2 separate regions of the Homo sapiens genome follow, and region 1 is linked to region 2. Evidence: fine-mapped expression QTL. A gene starts in region 2. The other region holds a variant in brackets. All regions are shown on one strand. Distances are from middle to middle.

Region 1 (4,254 bases), 29 kb before region 2:
CCCGGGAAGCAGGAAGCAGAGCTTGCAGTGAGCTGAGATCCGGCCACTGCACTCCAGCCTGGGTGACAGAGCGAGACTCTGTCTCAAAAAAAAAAATTATTTAGCTATCTTGTTAATAAAATCAGGTTTAGCGGCTACTTTAAAGACATGCCAGTCATAACCTCGCTGAGACGATGACTGAAGATGACCAAGTCCTTTTTAGTTCAGAGTGGCCAGTGGCCGTTGCTGGCAGAGCTGTGGTCTCTGGAAAAGGAGCGGAGAGCACCTCTGAATAATGAATTCTTGGGTGTGCTTTTACCTGTGCCGCCATCATTCAAATTTACTCATAAAAGAGTAGACTCAGAAGAGAGTCAAAAGGAAGTAAATTTAAGGTGACATCTATTATGGATATCATGAATATGGATATCATGAAGTTAATTTAGACATAGACCTTCAATTTCCTTTTTTTTTTTTTTTGTTGAAGTCGGAGTCTCCCTCTGTCGCCCAGGCTGGAGTGCAATGACACGATCTTGGCTCACTGCAACCTCTGCATCCCAGGTTGAAGCGATTCTCCTTCAAACCCTCCGAGTAGCTGGGACTACAGGCGCCTGCCACCACTCCCAGCTAACTTTTTTTTTTTTTTTTTTTTTTTTTTTTTTTTTTTTTTGAGATGGAGTCTCACTCTGTCGCCCAGGCTGGAGTGCAGTGGCGCGATTTCAGCTCACTGCAACCTCCGCCTCCCGGGTTCATGCCATTCTCCTGCCTCAGCCTCCTGAGTAACTGGGACTACAGGCACCCGCTACCACGCCCGGCTAATTTTTGGTGCTTTTAGTAGAGTCAGGGTTTCACCGTGTTGGCCAGATGGCCTCGATCTCCTGACCTCGTGATCCGCCCGCCTCGGCCTCCCAAAGTGCTGGGATTACAGGCGTGAGCCACCGCGCCCGGCCAAATTTTTTGTATTTTTAGTAGAGATGGGGTTTGACTGTGTTGGCCAGGGTGGTCTCGATCTCCTGACCTCGTGATCTGCCCGCCTTGGCCTCCCAAAGTGCTGGGATTACAGGCGTGAGCCACCACGCCCAGCCTGCTTGTTGCAGAAATTCTTACTGTAGAAAATGAAAGTGGTCTCTCAGAGGTACCATTTTGGTGTCCGTCTGTCTCCATGTGTTCACGCATGCATCGGGGATAAGCTCTTGTTCTGTTGTCTGCTCCATAGTTAGTATTCACATCATTAGTTTCCTTTTTTTGCCACGAGATGGCTTATTTTCATTATTCATACAAATAATTTTCTATAATACCCCAGTCAAACGGGAGAATTTGGCAGTCCGATTTTGGGGTGGGGGGGGTCCCTGCAGAGACTCACAGACTGGTGGCATTGGCGCTGAGTGCCCAGGTTCACAGCACAGCTTGTGGCTTGTGTCCATCTTGCATGTGGCTCTTCCTCCATGTCATGACTGGGGTCTCGGGGGTAACGGGCAGGAAATCCTTCAGACTCTTAGGAAATTTCACTCCACTTCTCCTGGCCTCTGGTCGGCAGGGTGTTCTTCCATGTCTCGGTTTTCTAGCTTGGCCTTATTGAAGTTGGAATTTATGTCTGTTGTCATTTTCCCTTTTTTTTTTGTTTTTTTTTTCAAGCCAGAGTAAGGCTGGAGTGCAGTGGCGTGATCATAGCTCACCACTTCACCCTTGAATATCTGGGCTAAAACGATCCTCCTGCCTCAGCGCCCCAAAGCATTTGGATTACAGGTGTGAGGCACCGCACCCAGAGCATTTTTGCTTTTGAAAATTACCTGTTTATGTCCTTTGTCTATTGATTTGGGTTTATTTAGAGAGTTTTAATACTCAGAAACTCTGTGTGATAGTGCTTTTCTGTTACACTGGGAAAGCTTGTGAAAGTCAGATTTAGAGAGTCTTTTAGGCGTTAAAAATGATGTGAAAAGCGTAGGAAATGCTTATGGTAAGTGAAAAAAGCAGGAAAATTGTATGCAGTTGGGTAGGGCTACATAAAACTGCACAGGAAAGCTGAAATAAAATTGTCAGAAGGAATTGTAGTTAACTGAGCAGGCACAGTAGCT[AGCTG/G]ATCAGTGAACCTCGCCCCTTTTAAAAATTTTGGGCCTGGCAAGGTGGCTCTTCGGCCTATAGTCCAGCACTTTGGGAGGCTGAGGGAGGAGGATTGCTTGAGCCCAGGAGTTTGAGCCCTGGGCAACACAGTGAGACCCGCTATCATTACAAAACATTTTAAAACTTAGCCACATGTGGTTGCACATGCCTGTCATTCTGGCTGCTTGGGAGACGGGGCAGCAAGATCACTTGAGCCCAAGAGGTTGAGGCTGTGGTGAGCTATGACTGTGAGCTGTGACTGCGCCACTGAACTCCTGGCTGGACGACAAACCAAGTCTCTGTCTCTAAAAACAGACACAGTAACAATTTCACCCTATTGAAAATCAGCGTGGACTCTATTTTCCTGATAAATCCAAGTGATAGTAAGTGTCGACATGTTAGCGTTCTCTGGGGTGATCATCTTTGGTGTTAGAGACTAAATTGTTTCAAATACCAGAGTCCTGGGAGTCCTCATGTTTCAGGGCAGCGCCAGAAGACTCCGCCGTACGTTTCCACAGAGCCTCCTGCGCTTGGTGCTCCAAGGATTAAAGTGTCCCCTTGGAACCAGTTAGGTTTTTTGTTTGTTTGTTTTGTGGCTTTTTGTTTTTGTTTTTTTGTTTTTTTCTTTTATTTTATTTTTTGAGACGGAGTCTCATTCTGTCGCCCAGGCTGGAGTGCAGTGGCAAGATCTCGGCTCACTGCAGCCTCTGCCTCCCGAGTTCAAGCGATTCTCCTGCCTCAGCCTCCTGCGTAGCTGGGACTACAGACATGCACCACCATGTCCAGCTAATTTTTTTGTATTTTTAGTAGAGACGGGGTTTCACCATGTTGGCCAGGCTGGTCTCAACCTCCTGACCTCAGGTGATCTGCCTGCCTTGGCTTCCCAAAGTGCTGGGATTACAGGCGTGAGCCACCGTGCCTGGCCTTATTTATTTATTTATTTTTACAGACAGGGTCTTACTGTGTTGCCCAGGCTGGTATTGAACTCCTGGCCTCCCAAGTAGCTGGGATTACAGGCATGAGCCACCACGCCTGGCTAGTTTTGTATTTTTAGTAGAGACGGGGTTTCTCCATGTTGGTCAGGCTAGTCTCAAACTCCCGACCTCAAGTGATCCGTCCTCCTCCGCCTCCCAAAGTGTTGGGATTACAGGCGTGAGCCACCATGCCCCGCCTGATGGCTTCTTTATGATAGTTTTTTGGAGTTTTTTTGAGACAGAGTCTCACTTTGTCACCCAGGCGGGAGTGCAGTGGCACCATCACGGGGCCCACTGCGACCTCCACCTCCCGGGTTCAAGCGATTCTCCAGCCTCAGCCTCCGGAGTAACTGGGATTACAGGCGCGCACCACCACGCCTGGCTTTTTTTATTTTTTTATTTTTTTTTTAAAGTAGAGACGGGGTTTTGTCATGTTGGCCAGGCTGGTCTCAAACTCCTGAGCTGAAGTGATCCACCTGCTTGGTCTCCCAAAGTGCTGGGATTACAAGCCCTCTGATAGATTTTTGGTACTTGTAAAGACAGTTGTTTGGCATACCAGACAAATACTTGTCTGGAAGATTAGTTTACAAAGGCGTTGGCCCTTCAGGCGAAGCCTGTTGGTGTCAGGAGTGTTTTCCAAGCTGTCCTTGCTTTTATGTAAGAAACGCTGTTGAGTCGCAAGCTGGCTGCCCTGTCGGTTGCATCAGTTTGGGAGAAATACTGCTTCTGTTGCTAAATAGCCTTTTTGCCATTCGTGAACCTTTTGTTGGGGGAAAAACAAACTGCATTTTGTTTTTAAATAGGCTAACTTAAAGGAACGTCCAGCAGGTGGTGAGTTCTTGTTGGTGTTGGGAGGCAGGCTGTCTCCTTTGGCTGCTGTGATCACGCTGATCCTGGGCTTCTTTGTGCGATTTTTTTTTTTTTTTTTGAAACAGAGTATCGCTCTGTTTCCCAGGCTGGAGTGCAATGGCGCGATCTCGGCTCACTGCAACCTCCGCTTCCGGGGTTCACGCAATTCTCCTGCCTCAGCCTCCCGAATAGCTGGGATTACAGGCGTGTGCCACCATGACTAATTTTTGTATTTTTAGTAGAGATAGGGTTTCACCATGTTGGCCAGGCTGTTGTCGAACTCCTGACCTCAAGTGAGCCACCGCGTCCGGCCCTTGTTTGTGCTTTGACGGAACATATTTTATTGTATGTTGTC
Region 2 (4,254 bases):
CCCTTGCACAGAGGGGCCGGGGCACCCCAAGGCTTCTGTAGCCACCCTGCTGCGGCGTGGAGGTGCTGGGCTGTGACGAAAGGACCTGCCTGAGGAGAGCCCCACGCACCGTCCCGCCTCTGCCTCTGCCTCTGCCTCTGTGATTTGATGAATGTCTGTGAAAGACAGAAAAACAGAACAGCTTCACCAAGAAAGAAGATGGTGTGTTTGGAAAGCCCGGGAGCCAGGCGGGCGGGCGCTGGGAGAAGCTGCTGTGTGGCCGCAGAGGCTCCTGCGCTCCGCCTGGCCCACCCAGCATGGCTTCTGGTCCCCACGTGCCTCACGGTCCAGTGTGGCTGCTGAAGCGCCAGGGACGGTCTTCATGATCGCCTGGCAGGAGAAAAGGTCATAAGAAAATGTCGTCCCAGAAGTTATTGCACGATTTCTGCTTGGGTCACGTTGGCCAGAGCTGAGTCACAGACAGGCCGCTCCTTGCTTAGAGGCACTGGGTGCTGGCCAAGGCTGGGGACCAGGGGACAGTGGAGATGGCGAGTAACGAGCTGCCGGTGCCAGGGCAGGTGTGCCTAGGAGCCGGGCCTGCTCACTCTGGGGCAGCGGCCCTCTGCCAGGGGCTCTGGTGGATGGAGGCCAGGATGCTCCGATGACCAGGCTGCCCCCGCTCGCTTGTTGGTGGTGTGGAAGCGCTGGCGGTGAGGGTTGGTCGGCCCCGCTGTGCATGTGTGGGTCTGAGCCCTGGCCGCCAGGTCTCCGTGCTGGGCCCCTCTCAGAATCCAGCTCCAGGCTCCTCCCAGCTCCTCCCAGCTTCAGGTCCTGTGAGGGTCGGTGGGGAGGTGGGGGCTGCCCGGGACGCTCTCCCCCTGCAGCCTCCGGCCGTCCTTGTGAGGCAGCAGCGGTGGGGTGAGGGCCTGCCTGCTGCGCTGGTTTCTGCTGGCTCAGGCCTGGCGTTTCCCTGGCGATCCAGGTGTTAGGGGGAGCAGACAGGCAGGAGTGGGCAAGGCCCTCACCACGGTCCTGTCCTTGCAGATCCAGCACACGGAAGACATGGAGAACGAGATCGACGAGCTGCTGCAGGAGTTCGAGGAGAAGAGTGGCCGCACCTTTCTGCACACCGTCTGCTTCTACTGAGCCCAGCGCCCGCATGGAGCCGCCTCTGGAGCTTCCTGTTGTTCATACTTTTTCCTTCCTGACATTTGTTTTTACTTACAGGTGTTCTGCTGGTGACGGTAGCATTACCCAAATAAACTGTGCATATGAAATGGGAGAGGAGATGCCAAAACGCCAGATGAAAGCAATCAAGTTTCTTCTTTTCCACTTTTACTTATGAGCAGGATATTGATTACAAAGTTTTTCTTCTTTAACCAAAAAGGAAAGACAACGGTTTGTGTGCACTTCCCGACATACCTGTGTCTTCGTGTGCCTGCCTTCCCTCCCTCCTCCCCACCGGGCCGGACTGTACAGAGCCCTGCTGCGGCGTGTTAGGAATGACCTGGAATTGTCAATAAACAGATGCTGCTGTCATTGTGCCTGGTCCTGAATTCCTGGCCCGACCCTCGCCCCTGAGGAGGTGGCAGAGGCCTAGCCCTGCCGCCCTCAGTGACCTCCGACCACTGCTTGGGAGGAGTAGCTCAGACCTGGTGGTGCTGACAGGGTCTGGGCCTACCCGTGCCTGTGCTGCCTGAAGCGGAAGCCGCCTGCTCCTGCCACAACTGCTGCCTGTGGTGGAGCGGCGTCCCCTCTCCATGTGGAACCCCCCCGGGCGGGGATCCCCCAAGGCCAGCTACGGGGGAGGCTGAGCCGGGAGGATCGCCTGAGCCCAGGAGTGGAGGCTGCAGTGAGCCTGGATGGCGCCACGACCCAGGCTGGGTCCCAGGCATAGCTTCCCGCTGACTTCCTGCTGAGGCCGGGGGTCGGCTCCCGGGCCTGAGACATGGTCACCGGTCGTGGATGAGAGTTTGGCCTCAGGACCCCGAGCCAGGGACAGCCACAGCGGAGTGGTGGCCACTGGGCCTCTGAATGGCCGGCGTCCCGACCCATGGGCCTGGGCTGACCCCCTCGTCCCCGCCCTAAGGGAAGCCTGTGCGGGGCGGCCCTGCCCTCGGCTCCTGTGCCACATCCCTCCGTTGAGGATTCCAGGGGTCATCCCGTCCCTGACCTGTGGCCCCCACGGCCGTGGGGCTGTCGCGACCTTGCGGACCCCACCCTGGAGGCACGTGCGTGCCGAGCGGACTGGGGCAGTCCCGCACCCGGCGACCTGGGAGTCCAGGACGTAGGGCGGAGCAGTGGGGCGGGAAGGGCCTCGGCGCCCCTCCAGGACCGGAGGACTGGCGTCCAGGGTCACCGGACAGGCCACCGGGGCTGGGTCTGACCAGACTGGGGCGGGACGCGAAGCCGAGGCTCCCGGGGAGGGGTCCCGGCCGGCGTCCGGGGGATGGCGGTCTCCTCCCGGCGCTGGCACGGGGCGGCCTGCGGTCTGCGCGGTCCCTCCCGAGAGGCGGAGGAAGGCGGCGGGGAGGGAGGGGGGAGGAGGGAGGAGGAGGCAGGGAGGGGGCCGGAGCCGAGCGGAGCCGAGTCGAGCCGAGCCGAGCGCATCGCAGGGAGGACCCGAGGGCGGAGCGGAGCGCGGCGGGCCGGGCCGAGAGACCCCAGAAAGGCCCCGCGTCCCTCCCCGGCGCCCCCCCCCCCGCGCCTCCTCCCCCCGGCCGGTGCCGGGGTTGCAGCGAGCGGCGGCGGACGATCCAGGGAAGCGCTGACCTCTGCGGAGGCGGCGGGGGCTCAGCATCGGGCCGGGGCCGGGGGGGCGCCGGGGCCGGGGGGCGGCGCTCCGGCCCGGCCCGGCCCCGCCCGATGTCCATGAGCGCGAACACCATGATCTTCATGATTCTGGGGGCGTCGGTCGTGATGGTGAGCGGAGGGGCTTCCCGCGCGCGCCCCCTGCTCCCCGCCCGCGCGCGCCGCCTGGCCCACCTCCCGCGCCTTGTTTACCGCCCGTGCGGCCTGCGCTCCCCTCCCCGGCCTGCGCTCCCCTCCCCGGCCTGCGCTCCCCTCCCCGGCCTGCGCTCCCCCACCCCGGCCTCCGCTCCCCTCCCCAACCTGCGATCCCCACACTCCCTACGCTCCTCTCTCCGGCCTACGCTCCCCCCACCCCGGCCTGCGCTTCCCCCTCCCCGGCCCGCGGTCCCCTCCCGGGCCTGCGCTCCCCCCACCCCGGCCTGCGCTCCCCTCCCCAGCCTGCGATCCCCATACCCGCTGCGCTCCCCCTACCAAGGCCTACGCTCCCCTCACCCCGGCCTGCGCTCTCGCTCCCCGCTTGCGCTGCCCCGACCCCGGCCTGCGCTCCCCACCCCCAGCCCCGCTTCGTCCCGCCCGCTCCTTGGCGCTGACCGGTCATGAGCTCTTCCAGGCCATCGCGTGCTTGATGGACATGAACGCGCTGCTGGACCGATTCCACAACTACATCCTCCCGCACCTGCGGGGCGAGGACCGCGTCTGCCACTGCAACTGTGGCCGGTGAGTCCACAACCGGCGCCGGCTCGACACGCGTGAGCGCACATGTGTGGCGGGGCCCACTCGGGGCGCGGGGGAACCAGCCCCACGCAGGCCGCGAGCCGCCTTCCACCCTTGAGGGCTGCCAGGTGCGCAGGGGGAGGAGCTGTCTCAAGGTGGGCGGGGGTCTCCTGGGGGCGCATGGCTTTAGGACGCCGTTCCTAGAGGCCTCCAGGGTGATGGCGGAATGGGTCACGGGGCCTCCTGGTCCAGCCTGGAGGCCGGAAAGCCGCAGCCCAGTGTGATGTCCACAGTGGAGACCCAAGCCAGCCTCATCAGGGCTGGGGCAGGAAGCGCCTGCTGGCACAGGGCTGGGCCCTGCACTGAGTCCCTGGGCAGGGGAATGCAGGTCAAGGCGGGAAGGGCCTGCCTTGAGGGGCACTGGGCACCACCCCCGGGCTGGAGAGGAGCTGAGGGATGGGCTGGGGGGGCAGCGGGGAGGTGGAGCTTCCTCAAGGTCATTCAGATTGAGGGGAGCGCCCAGACCCCCCGCACCCACCGTGTGACCCCCTCTGTGCACGTGTAGCGATGGGATCCTCTTGGCCATGCATGTTTGTACGTCCATGTACGAAATAAACATCTTCTCATGAGACGCGCATGTGTGTGGCGTCTGTGCATATACATGTGCGTACACACAGCCCCCGCGCACGCACGCATGCACTTCCACCCCTCAGGACACCCTCACGCAGTGGCCGCTGTTAACCCTGCTGA

The links.
Region 1: its variant is fine-mapped to the expression of TMEM240 in whole blood (TOPMed, PIP 0.93).

The regions. Positions count from the first base shown.
Region 1 is chr1:1,567,637-1,571,890 of GRCh38, reverse strand. The region is part of intron 1 of SSU72 (SSU72 homolog, RNA polymerase II CTD phosphatase); the gene reads left to right. Among named protein-coding and RNA genes, the nearest start is that of SSU72, 5.1 kb to the left of the region's middle. RefSeq lists an enhancer at 905-1,406. The variant AGCTG/G (reference allele first, on the strand shown) is at 2,052.
Region 2 is chr1:1,538,937-1,543,190 of GRCh38, reverse strand. TMEM240 (transmembrane protein 240) reads left to right here and starts at 2,567. Exons shown (of 4, transcript NM_001114748.2): 1 at 2,567-2,901; 2 at 3,401-3,507. The coding sequence starts at 2,845. SSU72 (SSU72 homolog, RNA polymerase II CTD phosphatase) reads left to right here. Exons shown (of 5, transcript NM_014188.3): 5 at 1,024-1,518. The coding sequence ends at 1,125. RefSeq lists a silencer at 3,688-3,982.